3 linked regions of the Homo sapiens genome follow. The protein of the gene in region 1 purifies or fractionates together with the protein of each later gene. This does not show direct contact. Each region holds a gene or a part of one and is shown in the gene's direction. Other genes may lie near its edges.

The links.
Region 2: the proteins of PTPN3 (region 1) and ACOT8 purify together in Homo sapiens (affinity purification with mass spectrometry; 2 studies listed by BioGRID and IntAct, with this or other methods). This does not show direct contact.
Region 3: the proteins of PTPN3 (region 1) and YWHAE purify together in Homo sapiens (affinity purification with mass spectrometry; 5 studies listed by BioGRID and IntAct, with this or other methods). This does not show direct contact.

What each region holds. Positions count from the first base shown.
Region 1 is NC_000009.12:109,491,711-109,495,361, reverse strand, and holds part of PTPN3 (tyrosine-protein phosphatase non-receptor type 3), read left to right. Parts: intron 1-3,651.
Region 2 is NC_000020.11:45,850,856-45,854,506, reverse strand, and holds part of ACOT8 (acyl-coenzyme A thioesterase 8), read left to right. Parts: intron 1-553; exon of another isoform or gene 554-584; intron 585-3,651. UniProt on the Homo sapiens protein: Catalyzes the hydrolysis of acyl-CoAs into free fatty acids and coenzyme A (CoASH), regulating their respective intracellular levels. Displays no strong substrate specificity with respect to the carboxylic acid moiety of Acyl-CoAs.
Region 3 is NC_000017.11:1,390,084-1,393,734, reverse strand, and holds part of YWHAE (14-3-3 protein epsilon), read left to right. Parts: intron 1-3,651. UniProt on the Homo sapiens protein: Adapter protein implicated in the regulation of a large spectrum of both general and specialized signaling pathways. Binds to a large number of partners, usually by recognition of a phosphoserine or phosphothreonine motif.

The sequences.
Region 1 (3,651 bases):
GTGGTTGAGAAAAGACCAGCAATTTGTGGTCCCTACATCTTTTCCCAGGAGAGCTCACCTTCCAGCATTGCGGTCCTGGAAAGCAGGGACAATGCCTCTTTATCTTTTCCCAAGATCTGTTGTAGAAGCTGGAATGCTGAAGGCACCCAGCACATACCCTGGTCTGGAAGGGCTGGTGGGGGTGCAGTAGCCTACCCAGCATCAGCTCTTCATTCCAACTCTAATAGAGACAGGAGGAGACCAGGTCAGTGTCCACACTGCTCTTGGCTGGGTCCAGGTGACCTCAGAGCCTGATCTTATAGATGTCTTCTTTCCTCTGGCCGAGAAGGACCTGAGAAGTGCTTGGTAAGCCCCTGGCTGAAAACTGATTTGGTAATGGGTTCTAAGACCCAGAAATGTTGCATCTCCAGAGCTTCTGCTTGTGTGTGCACCTGAAGCTTCCCACTGCCCCCAGGTTAACTTGTTATTCCAAGACCAGGTGTGAGCACAGATTTAACAGCAAATTGAGACATTTATTGAGTCTCTACCATGTATTAGGCCATAGGGCTACAGAGGTGAACGCTGAACCCCTGCCTTGGAAGGATTCATGGTGGATTTGGAAAGACAGTTTGTATATGTGTATGTGCGTCCCCATCCATCTGTCCATGGTCCTGTAAGTACTTTAAAAGGATAAGCTAGGTGCAAGAGACACCAGAGGATGCAGCCATTCATTCCGATGGGCATCAGGAGACACTGTGGAGCGTAGTTCTAACCATGGGGAGAAGTTAGTTCTAACTTCAAGGCATAATTTGAATTAAGCCTCAAACTTAGGAACAAGATGGCATTTAGGGCAGGCAAAACAGCAGGGGCAAAGGCATGAAGAGACTTTGTGGATCATAGGCGTGGTGATTCTTCTCCAAGTCCAACCTGGTCTTTTTTGTTTTTTGAGACAAGGTCTCACTCTGTCATCAGGCTGGAGTGCAGTGGCCCGATCATGGCTCAAGCAGTCCTCCTTGTACCTCGCACCTGGGACTACAGGCATGTGCCACCACACCCAGCTAATTTTTTATTTTTTGTGGAGACAAAGTCTTACTATGTTGCCCAAGCTGGTCTCGAACTCCTGGGCTCAAACAGTCCTCCTGCCTTGGCCTCCCAAAGTGTGGAGATATAGGCGTGAGCCACCGCACCCAGCCAAATCCAGCCTCTTGGTGTTCACTAATGCAGAACCCACCTGCTCTGGTTCGGGTCTGCTTTATCTCTGTACATGGGCCAGGCCTCACCTAGCCCAGGGCTAAGTGCCTATTCTCCTTGTTTTCACCTGGATGGGAGCAATGCCACTGTGTTGTCTTTGAGGCAGGAGTAACTTCTGCAGGGATGCCTCTGGTTTTAGTTATCAGCACTAATCTGTACTTATTGGTTGCCACACACTGTTGTGAGTGCTCTCCAAATAGTAACTTAATTCATTTAATCTTCACAGCAACCCTGTCGCCAGGCTGCCTCCCAGGTACAAGTAGGTGGGGGCTGAACTCCTCTGCCCAGTGTATGTCCCTCTGTGGGTGATGCTCTGATTGTGGCCCGGCCTCCCCCTGGCTGCCTTTACATAGATGTGCCGGGAAACAGCCCAGTCTGAATTGCAGTGGAGCACTGACCCCATTTCCTTTAGGGGACCGGCAGGACTGTGCTGACTGCGTTTTCTGAACCAAAGAACGGGATCTGTAGTGTGAAAAAAGAATGTGTGTGCCACTGCTTTGTGCAAGAGGAGGCCTGAGAAGTGTTTGGATACTGAGAGAGTGGAATTTTTGAAACATTTTGATGGTTTATATGGAAAGTTAGGACAGAGGATTTGAAATTGGAATAGTCCTGGAAAATTGAGGTCCCATGATTTACTGTTAGGATACACAAGCTTTTAGTAAATGTTTAAGCAGTGTAGAGTGAAGTGAATTTTTTTTACTGAGCCCCCATAGGGAACAAACAGTGCATTTTAGCCTCAAAATCTGACTGATTCCTTCCAGCCCCATTTTACAGAGGGGGTGAGAAAACTGAGGCTCAGAGAGATGAAGTAACCACCAAAGAGCACAGTGTTTGTAAGCAGTGCAGCCGAGATTTGTCTTTTTGGTTTTTGTTTGTTTGTTTGTTTTTTAAATATAGAGAAAGGGTCTCGCCATGTTGCCAGGCTGGTCTTGAATTCCTCGGCTCAACTGATCTTCCTGCCTCAGCCTCTCAAAGTGCTGGAATCACAGGCGTGAACCACTGTGCCTGGCTGCAGCCAACATTTGAACCCAAGTCTGTGCCTAGACAAATCATCTGTTGTCAAAGTCAAATAAAATATAAAAACAGATGTTTCTCTAAATTTAAAACATTTTGCTTGGGAAGTAAGAATAATAATTTGGGAAATCTATACAGACTAGGTGGTCTTTGGTTTGGAAAACAAAGAGAATGTTGGGAGTTTTATTAGAATGAGAAATATTATGTATTGTTTTGAAAAAAGTCCATCGGCACTAGAGAAGCTCTTCGGGAGCTGGCAAGCTCTGATTGTTGCATGATGGTAGCAGATAAAACTAGTCTTAGGGTCACAGCAATTTGTTTCAGTAGTTATTAAATAAAACTGGTTTTAGGTTATAACAGGCAGTTTTAGCAGCCACGCTTGCAGAGAATTACATTTTTGGAGCAATGTTATGTGCCCTGAGTATTTTTCCCCTGGCCTCTCAACTCTGATTTAGTTGGGCATTACAATAATGACCCAAATTGTATAATCAACTTCCACCCTGTAAAATGAGGATCATAATTGCACCTATTCCCTTTAAGTTGACTGTTGTCAATGAGCTAATGTGGAAAACTAAGGCAAAACTTGGCATAGAAAAGGGGTCCCTCACTTTGTGGTCAGACCCCTGACCCTCCAGACAAGTGCTTTGATCTGTGTTCAGTGCTGAGAGTCGCTGTGGGTGAGTGAAGGTCCCTCCTCAGCCAGGACCACAGGTCCCGGTTCTCAGGACTGAAGGGATATTCCAAGAGGGAGCATCCAGGACTGTGCAGGGGCCATGGCTGCCTGAATGCTGTGCTGATGAGGGTCCCCTGGCGTAGGAGTGGGGTTGGAGACCTGGCCCATGCATGTCACCTCCCTCAGCCACATCAGCTCAAGGGCTAGCCCAGAGGTTCTCGGTGAGGGAGGCAGCAACCAGCTCCATCAGCTGTTTTTTGACCGCCAGCCACCATTGGGCCTGGGGAGGGGAGGTTGGCCTCTGAGCTCAGTCTTCCCCACTGGCTCCCCCGAGTCCCCTCCCCTGCTCTGGTTATCAAATGCATTCATGGTTCTTGTAGAAAATAAAGTGTCAGGGAACACAAGAAAAATTATGCATGATGCTTCTCTGAAAGCAGCTGGTCCACTGTCAGCACTGCCATGATCTGCACATGCCCTCTCCTGCTTCCAGTGGATTCTCTACTCCACAGACGGGGGAGTCTTCCATACACTCCTATTTTTCTCAAAATGAAGACAAAGCTGATCTCTCAGCATCTCCTGCAGGCCCTATGTTCATGCTCTTTGAGCCCTCACCTCACCGTGCTCCTTCCTGCTGCAGGGACTGCAAGAGCCTGGGACCTTCTCCCCCTCCCCACTGATTACTTCATCCTGTGGGTCTCAGCTCCATGATTGCAGAGCCTTTGCTCACCTTCCTG
Region 2 (3,651 bases), on another chromosome or scaffold:
CCGGGCGCGGTGGCTCACGCCTGTAATCCCAGCACTTTGGAGGCCAAGGCGGGCGGATCACGAGGTCAGGAGATCGGGACCATCCTAGCTAACACGGTGAAACCCCGTCTCTACTAAAAATATAAAAAAATTAGCCAGGTGTGGTGGTGGGTGCCTGTAGTCCCAGCTACTCGGGAGGCTGAGGCAGGAGAATGGTGTGAACCCGGAAGGCGGAGCTTGCAGTGAGCCAAGATCGTGCCACTGCACTCCAGCCTGGGCGAGCACTCCAGCCTGGGCAACAGAGCGAGACTCTGTCTCAAAAACAAAAAACCTATGTGTGGTGGCTCATGCCTATAATCCCCGCACATTGGGAGGCCAATGCGGAGAATTGTTGGAACCCAGGAATTCAAGACCAGCCAGGGCAATAAATCGAGACCTTGTCTCTACAAAAAAATAAATAAAAGGAAAATAAAAGCAAAACCTATGCTAAAAAACAAACAAAAAAAACCCTCACTGTTTTCTTTCCTTCCCTGTTACCCCCAGAGCAGATGCCCTCATGTGTTCTGCGTAGATCCCCAGCTGAGAAGAGTTTGTGGACCTTTACAGTATGTGATTTGTATTAAGAAAACCATGGGGTTTCCCCCTTCATTTTGTAAATATGAAAGTTATCCCTGTAATGGTAAATACACTTTTTCATACTGTCCCGTGTCTCTTACTCCTCATCCCTGAGGAGTATTGATTGGCCCCCCTCTTCTCGGCCCCCAGTCACTGCTATAAAGTATTTGAATACTTACCTTGGGCTCAGCCAGGTTCTTATCTTTATGCTAGTTGGGAGTAAATATGTGCTTTGTTTCTTTAATTTGTTTGTAAGTACCAGCCTTTTGATATTGTAATCCTTCCAGCCTAGTGAAATACCTGGCTGTTTTCTTTTGTGTGGGTGGGGGCATTACTTGAACTCTGAATCTCTTCATCCTGTGATGGAAGAATTCAATGAGTCTTTGCCAGTAAAGTATCTAGTGCAGGGCTTGGCATAATCTAGTTTTCCATAAATATTATTAGTTTTTGATGATTAACTTATGGGAATAATTAAAATTTGCATGATACAGAGCATAGTTGTGTGCATTATCTTGTTTAGTCTTCATAAGTAAACATGGGTGGCAGGCATTCCTGCCATCATTCTTACCTAAGGAAACTGGGACCTGAAGAGGTTTGGAACCAGCTCCCACAGTGCCCAAGGAGGCAGAGCCAGGATTTGAACCTGGTTTATGTGTCTTTGAGTGCCAAACTCTTTCCTGCTTCTTTGCTTCGCTCTTGGGCAATAATTCTAAACAATGAGAGAGCTGCCAGGGTACCCATCCCAGGTTCTGGGGAAAAGATCCTCTTTCTTGGAAAGTCTTCATCCAGGAGCAGCGTGAAATGAGCTGTGTCCAAGCCACCATTTCAAAATAAATAATTATTTGGCCGGGCGTGGTGGCTCATGCCTGTAATCCTAGCACTTTGGGAAGCCGAGGCGGGCGGATCACCTGAGCTCAGGAGTTCGAGACCAGCCTGGGCAACATGGTGAAACCCAGTCTCTACTAAAATACTAAAAATTAGCCAGGCATGGCGGCATGTGCCTGTAGTCCCAGCTACTCAGGAGGCTGAGGTAGGAGAATTGCTTGAACTCAGGAGGCGGAGGTTGCAGTGAGCTGAGATCATGCTACTGTACTCCAGCCTGGGCGACAGAGCGAGACTCTTGTCTCCATCAAAAATAAATAAATAAATAAAAATAATTATTTGTGCCCTTGCTTGTGTCTTGAAAGGCTGCAAGATAGCTAAAATAATTGGTAGTTATTATGGGAATATTAAAAGTCAAAGGACATTAGGCCAGTAGTAATGGGATTTGGGAGAAGCGATCATGTCAAAAAATTTGGCTAAGCCATATTGTTGCAGTTTCATACAAGGTTTAGTTCTGAGCTTCCTGGCTGCAAGGCAAAAAGGGGAGAGCTCTTATCTGTTTGTGGTGTGACTCTGCCAGCTATATCAGATATTAAAACCAATGCTGTTTTTTGGCTGGGCATGTGGCTTATGCCTGTAATCCCAGGACTTTGGGAGGCCGAGGCGGGCAGATCGGCTGAGGTCAAGAGTTCGAGACCAGCCTGGACAATGTGGCGAAACTCCATCTCTACTAAAAAAAAAAAACACACACAAAAATTAGCCAGGTGTGGTGGTGCACACCTGTAGTCCTAGCTACTCAGGAGGCTGAGTCAGGAGAATCGCTTGAACCCTGGAGGTGGAGGTTGCAGTGAGCTGAGATCGTGCTACTGTACTCCAGCCTGGGTGACAGAGCAAGACTCCATCTAAAAAAAAAAAGGAAAATTAGCTGGGCGTGGTGACCTTAGCCCGTGATCCCAGCTACTCGGGAGGCTGAGGCTGAGGCTGAGGCAAGGAGAATTGCTTGAACCCGGCGGCTGGAGGTCGCAGTGAGCTAAAACTGCGCCACTGCACTCCCACCTGGGCGACAGATCGAGACTCCATCTCAAAAAAACAAAACAAAAAAGAGATGTTTCAATTACATTTTAAAAATAAAAGATGTTATGGGGGAGGGGGAGGGTTGGTCCTTGGCCATTTATCAAATCAGTTCTTTTTCTAAAAGCCCAGGAAAGAATGTGAATTAGTTGGGTTTTTGTTTTGTTTTTAGTTTTTCTCTACAGAGGTAAATTTAGAGCTTGAAGAATTCAGAACAAGGTCAGCAAACATTCTAGAAAGGGCCAGATAGTAAACATTTTAGGTTTTGCCAGTGAAAGCAACTATAGACAATATGTAAACAAATTAGCATGACTTTATTACAAAAAAATTGTATTTTAAGGCAACAGTTTCCTCATCTGTACAATGGGGGTAAGAGTGGCTCTACATAGTTATTGTGAGACCAACATGAGAAAACATACCCTCCTGTCCAATGCTGTCAGGCACCCTGCATCACTCCATAATCATTAACTCCCTTCAATATGCCTCAGGGCCTACCTGCTCTGTTCCAATAACAATTTTCAAGAATAGGGCTGGAACTCATTCACACTGAAAGGTAGACCAGAGTACTGAAGTTTCTGTGATCCTCCTCAGGAATCTGCACTTTAGCTTACCTGCAGACCAAGGATTGGATTAGAGGTTTTTTTTTGTTTTTTCCCCCCAAGTTTGGTGGTAGGGAGGAAGACTTCATTCCCAGTGTCTGAAAGCAGACTGCACAAGTAACTTTGTCTAGTGTCTGGACTCTTGGTAAGCCCTTCTCAAATGCCTTTAACCTTGAGGAGCTCGCACTCTGATAGAAGTGCTGCTGGTGGCAGTGCCTGATAACAGAGAGCTGAGCAAGCCAGTTGACCTCAGACAGTGATGTTTATTGCTGTTGATTGAGCCCTGGTGCCTGGTTGACTCCCCATTTGGATCAGAGTGAAGGAAGCAACACTTCTCTAGACCTGCTTCTTTCATCTGAAGGTTGAAAGTCATCCCCAAGATGTCTCATGGCCCAGATGTCAGGGTTCCTCAAGGTCAGCCTGACTCAGACAAAGTGAGAACTTCAGGGAAACCAGGGAAGTTCTCTTCCTCTCCAAATCTTCCCTCACCTGCTTGTTGTTGGCTGCCTTATCCCTGGCCAGTGCCTTCTACTCTGGTGGTGGTGGTCTTGTTGTTTTTGAGACA
Region 3 (3,651 bases), on another chromosome or scaffold:
CCAGCCGGGTTCCGCGGCTCAAACACCTGCAATCCCAGCACTGTGGGAGGCCGAGGTGGGCGGATCACCTGAGGTCAGGAGTTTGAGACCATCCTGACCAACATGGTGAAAACCAGTCTCTACTAAAAATACAAAAATTAGCTGGCCTGTGATGGCTTGTGCCTTTAGTCCCAGCTACTGAGGAGGCTGAGGTGGGAAATCGCTTGACCCTGGGAGGTGGAGATTGCAGTGAGCCCACATCGCACCATTGCACTCCAGTCTGGGCCACAGAGGGAGAGCCTGTCTCAAGAAAAGAAAAGCCCCGTAGTTTATCATAATGTCTGTACTGGGATATGGCTGATGCTATGCATTTCTGTAAAGTAGCTTTAAAATATTTTCTCCTCTCACTTTTATCTTTTTCCTTTTTTTTTTTTTGAGACAGGGTCTCACTTGGTCACCCAGGCTGTAGTGCAGTGGTGCGATCTTGGCTCACTGCAGCCTCTACCTTCCAGTCTCAGGTGATCCCCCCACCTCAGCCTCTTAAGTAGCTGTTTTTTTTGTTTGTTTGTATGTTTTTAAATTTTATTTATTTATTTATTTATTTATTTATTTATTTATTTTTTGGAGAGATGGAGTCTTGCTCTGTCACCCAGGCTGGAGTGCTGGAGTACAGTGGCGCGATCCACCACTCCCAGCTAATTTCTTTTGTGTTTTAGTAGAGATGGGGTTTCACCATGTTGCCCAGGCTGGTCTTGGAATTCCTGGACTCAAGCAATCTGTCAGACTTGGCCTCCCAAAGTGCTGGGATTATAGGCGTGAGCCACCACCCCCGGCCACCTTTGTCTTAGTGAATGCTATTAAGTTGTTAGGTTAGTGATGTAGTCATACAACTTTTTTTTTTTTTTGAGATGGATTTTCCCTCTTGTCATTCAGGCTGGAGTGCAGTGGCGTGATCTTGGCTCACTGCAGCCTCCGCCTCCTGGGCTCAAGTGATTCTCCTGCCTCAGCCTCCCGAGTAGCTGAGACTACAGACTTGGGCCATCATGCTTGGCTAATTTTTGTATTTTTAGTAGAGACAGAGTTTCACCATATTAGCCAGGCTGGTCTTCAACTCCTGACCTCAGGTAGTCCGCCTGCCTCAGCCTCCCAAAATGCTGGGATTATAGGTGTGAGCCACCGCACCCGGCCAGATATAGACATACAACTTCTAGGAGGGACAAAGGTTGGCATATGATTCACCAGTGTTGTTCCGGGTGGTTGGCTAGATAGCTGTCTAATGGAATCCATTAAGGAGTAGGAAAGAGCAGCAAGAAAAATGGCTATTTTCACTATTTTTGAAATGGTCAGTTAACAGTTTGAGATAGATACATATACTTTTTTGAGACAAGGTCTTGCTTTGTTGGCCAGGCTTGGATTGCATTGATGCAGTAACGATTCACTGCATCCTCAACCTCCCAGGCCCAAATGATCATCCCATCTCAGCCTCCCACTTAGCTGGGCCCACAGCTGTGCACCACAATACCTGGATAATTTAAAAGAACTTTTTTTTCTTTTTCTTTTTCTTTTTTCCCGAGACAAGATCTCAGTATATTACTCAGGCTGGGATGCAGTGTCACATTTATGGCTCACTGCAGCTTTGACCCCCTGGGCACCTCAGCATGCCAAGTAGCTGGGGCTACAGAAGTATACCACCACTTCTGGCTAATTTTTGTAGAGACAGGATTTTACCATGTTGCCCAGGTCTTGAACTCGAGCTCAAGATTCACCTGCCTCGGCCTCCCAAAGTTTTGCGATTACAGGCGTGAGCCACCATGGCTGGCAAAAAAATTTTTTTGGTAGAGGCCTGGTCCCAGCGGATTGCCCAGGCTGATGTTGAACTCCTGAGCTCATGTGATCTTCCCACCAGGTAGCTGGTACCGCCATGACCAGCTAATTAAAACTTTTTTTTTGTGGAGACGGGATCCCACTGTGTTGTCCAGGTAACTCCTGGGTTCAAGCGATCCTCCCACTGTGGCCTCCCCAAAGTGCAGGGATTATAGGCATGAACCACTGCGCCCGGCCAGCTTGATATATTTAGGTATTGATATATCCAAATTGACGAATTGGTTGCCAACAGAACCTCATGGTTCTCTGACTAAATGTTAATGCTAGTCATGGCCCTAAGAACAATTTCAGATGTTCATTTAAATTTATTAAATTGTAGCAAATAATAATGAAAGTCACCATAATTTAACATCCACATGAGTATATCTTGAAAAGACAGACTAATTCATCAGCTACAACAGCAGGCATAAACTGGGATTGTCCTGGGCAACAAACTTGCCTTGTGGTCACCCTACTTAATGGCCATTTGTTACTAGATTTTGTCATTTAGACTCATACAACAGTTTCCTAAACGTTGTCCAGCTTTTTATCACAGAGATAGCTTAGATCTACGTCTCTAGGAGGTTGAATTTTTTTTTTTCAAATGAAGTTAGCCTTTGGCAGAATATAAGTCAAAGGAAAAGTGAAAATTTCCTCCTCCTAGCTCCCTCCCCCACAAATGGGAACGTGCTAGTTAAGGATGTGGTAGTTGCTGAAAATAGAGCTTGCTGGCATTCCAAATCCTCTGATGGTGTCAACACCTAGTGTGTTGGTTTTCTTATGGCTACCTTGAGCCAGTTCTGTGTTTAAAAATATAATAGACCTAGGTGTTGGTAGCAGTGTCCTAAGCTCAGAGCTTTCCCTACATACATTTTATTTTTTTATTTTTACAAGTGTCTTTCATACCAAATACCCACATAAAAATTTAAAGGCTCACCCATATCTTGTTACAACTGTTATGTTTAGAATGCCAAACTGTGTAGTTCAGACCATATGACCATGATCCTGGCTTATCTCTTCTGAAATTTTTATCTTGAATTTATTGCCCTTCCAACAATCTACCATAGTAGCTGGACGGATCTGTTGTTGGTGGGCTTGATTTGTGATCAGATCAGGATTTTATCGAGCTAAAGCAATATGAAATGTGTTTAACTCTTCATTCATATCTAAAGTTTGAAGGAGATGCATTACTGTAAGAGTTATGACAGTATTTCATCATTTGGCAGATGTGGTAAATCTGCCATCACAGAATGCACAGGAATCACTGGGTTCCTTATCTTTCAAATGGGGATTAGTGATGTCTCTCTTGCCTACTAATTTGCAGGGTGGTTATGAAATTTTGGGCTTTTGTAAACTGTAAAGTGTAATACTTGTCGGTACTATTTGTTGTGAAACATTCTTATCTAATGTGAAAGGTCAGATAATTGTTTTTGTTACTGCTGTGCTAGGATCATATTAGATGATAACCTACCTTTTTGAGTTATTCTTAGCAAGTGTAGTCTTCTGGGCTTAGTCCTTATGTAAGATATGCACAAAGAAATATTCTCAAAATCCTTAATCTTACATCTGTAAATTTGCATATCCAAAGTAAAGGTCGTCCAGATTATTCCCAAATAATAATTTTGTCATGTTGAGCTGGTATATAGTTGTTTTGATATTAATTTTAGATTAATAAGAGACTTTCTCCTTAGCAAACGTAACACCTTTTGTCTGAATTTGGGATGAAAGCTGCTGTAATATGAAAATGTAGGCTGGGTGCAGTGGCTCACACCTGTAATCCCAGCACTTTGGGAGGCCAAGTTGGGCGGA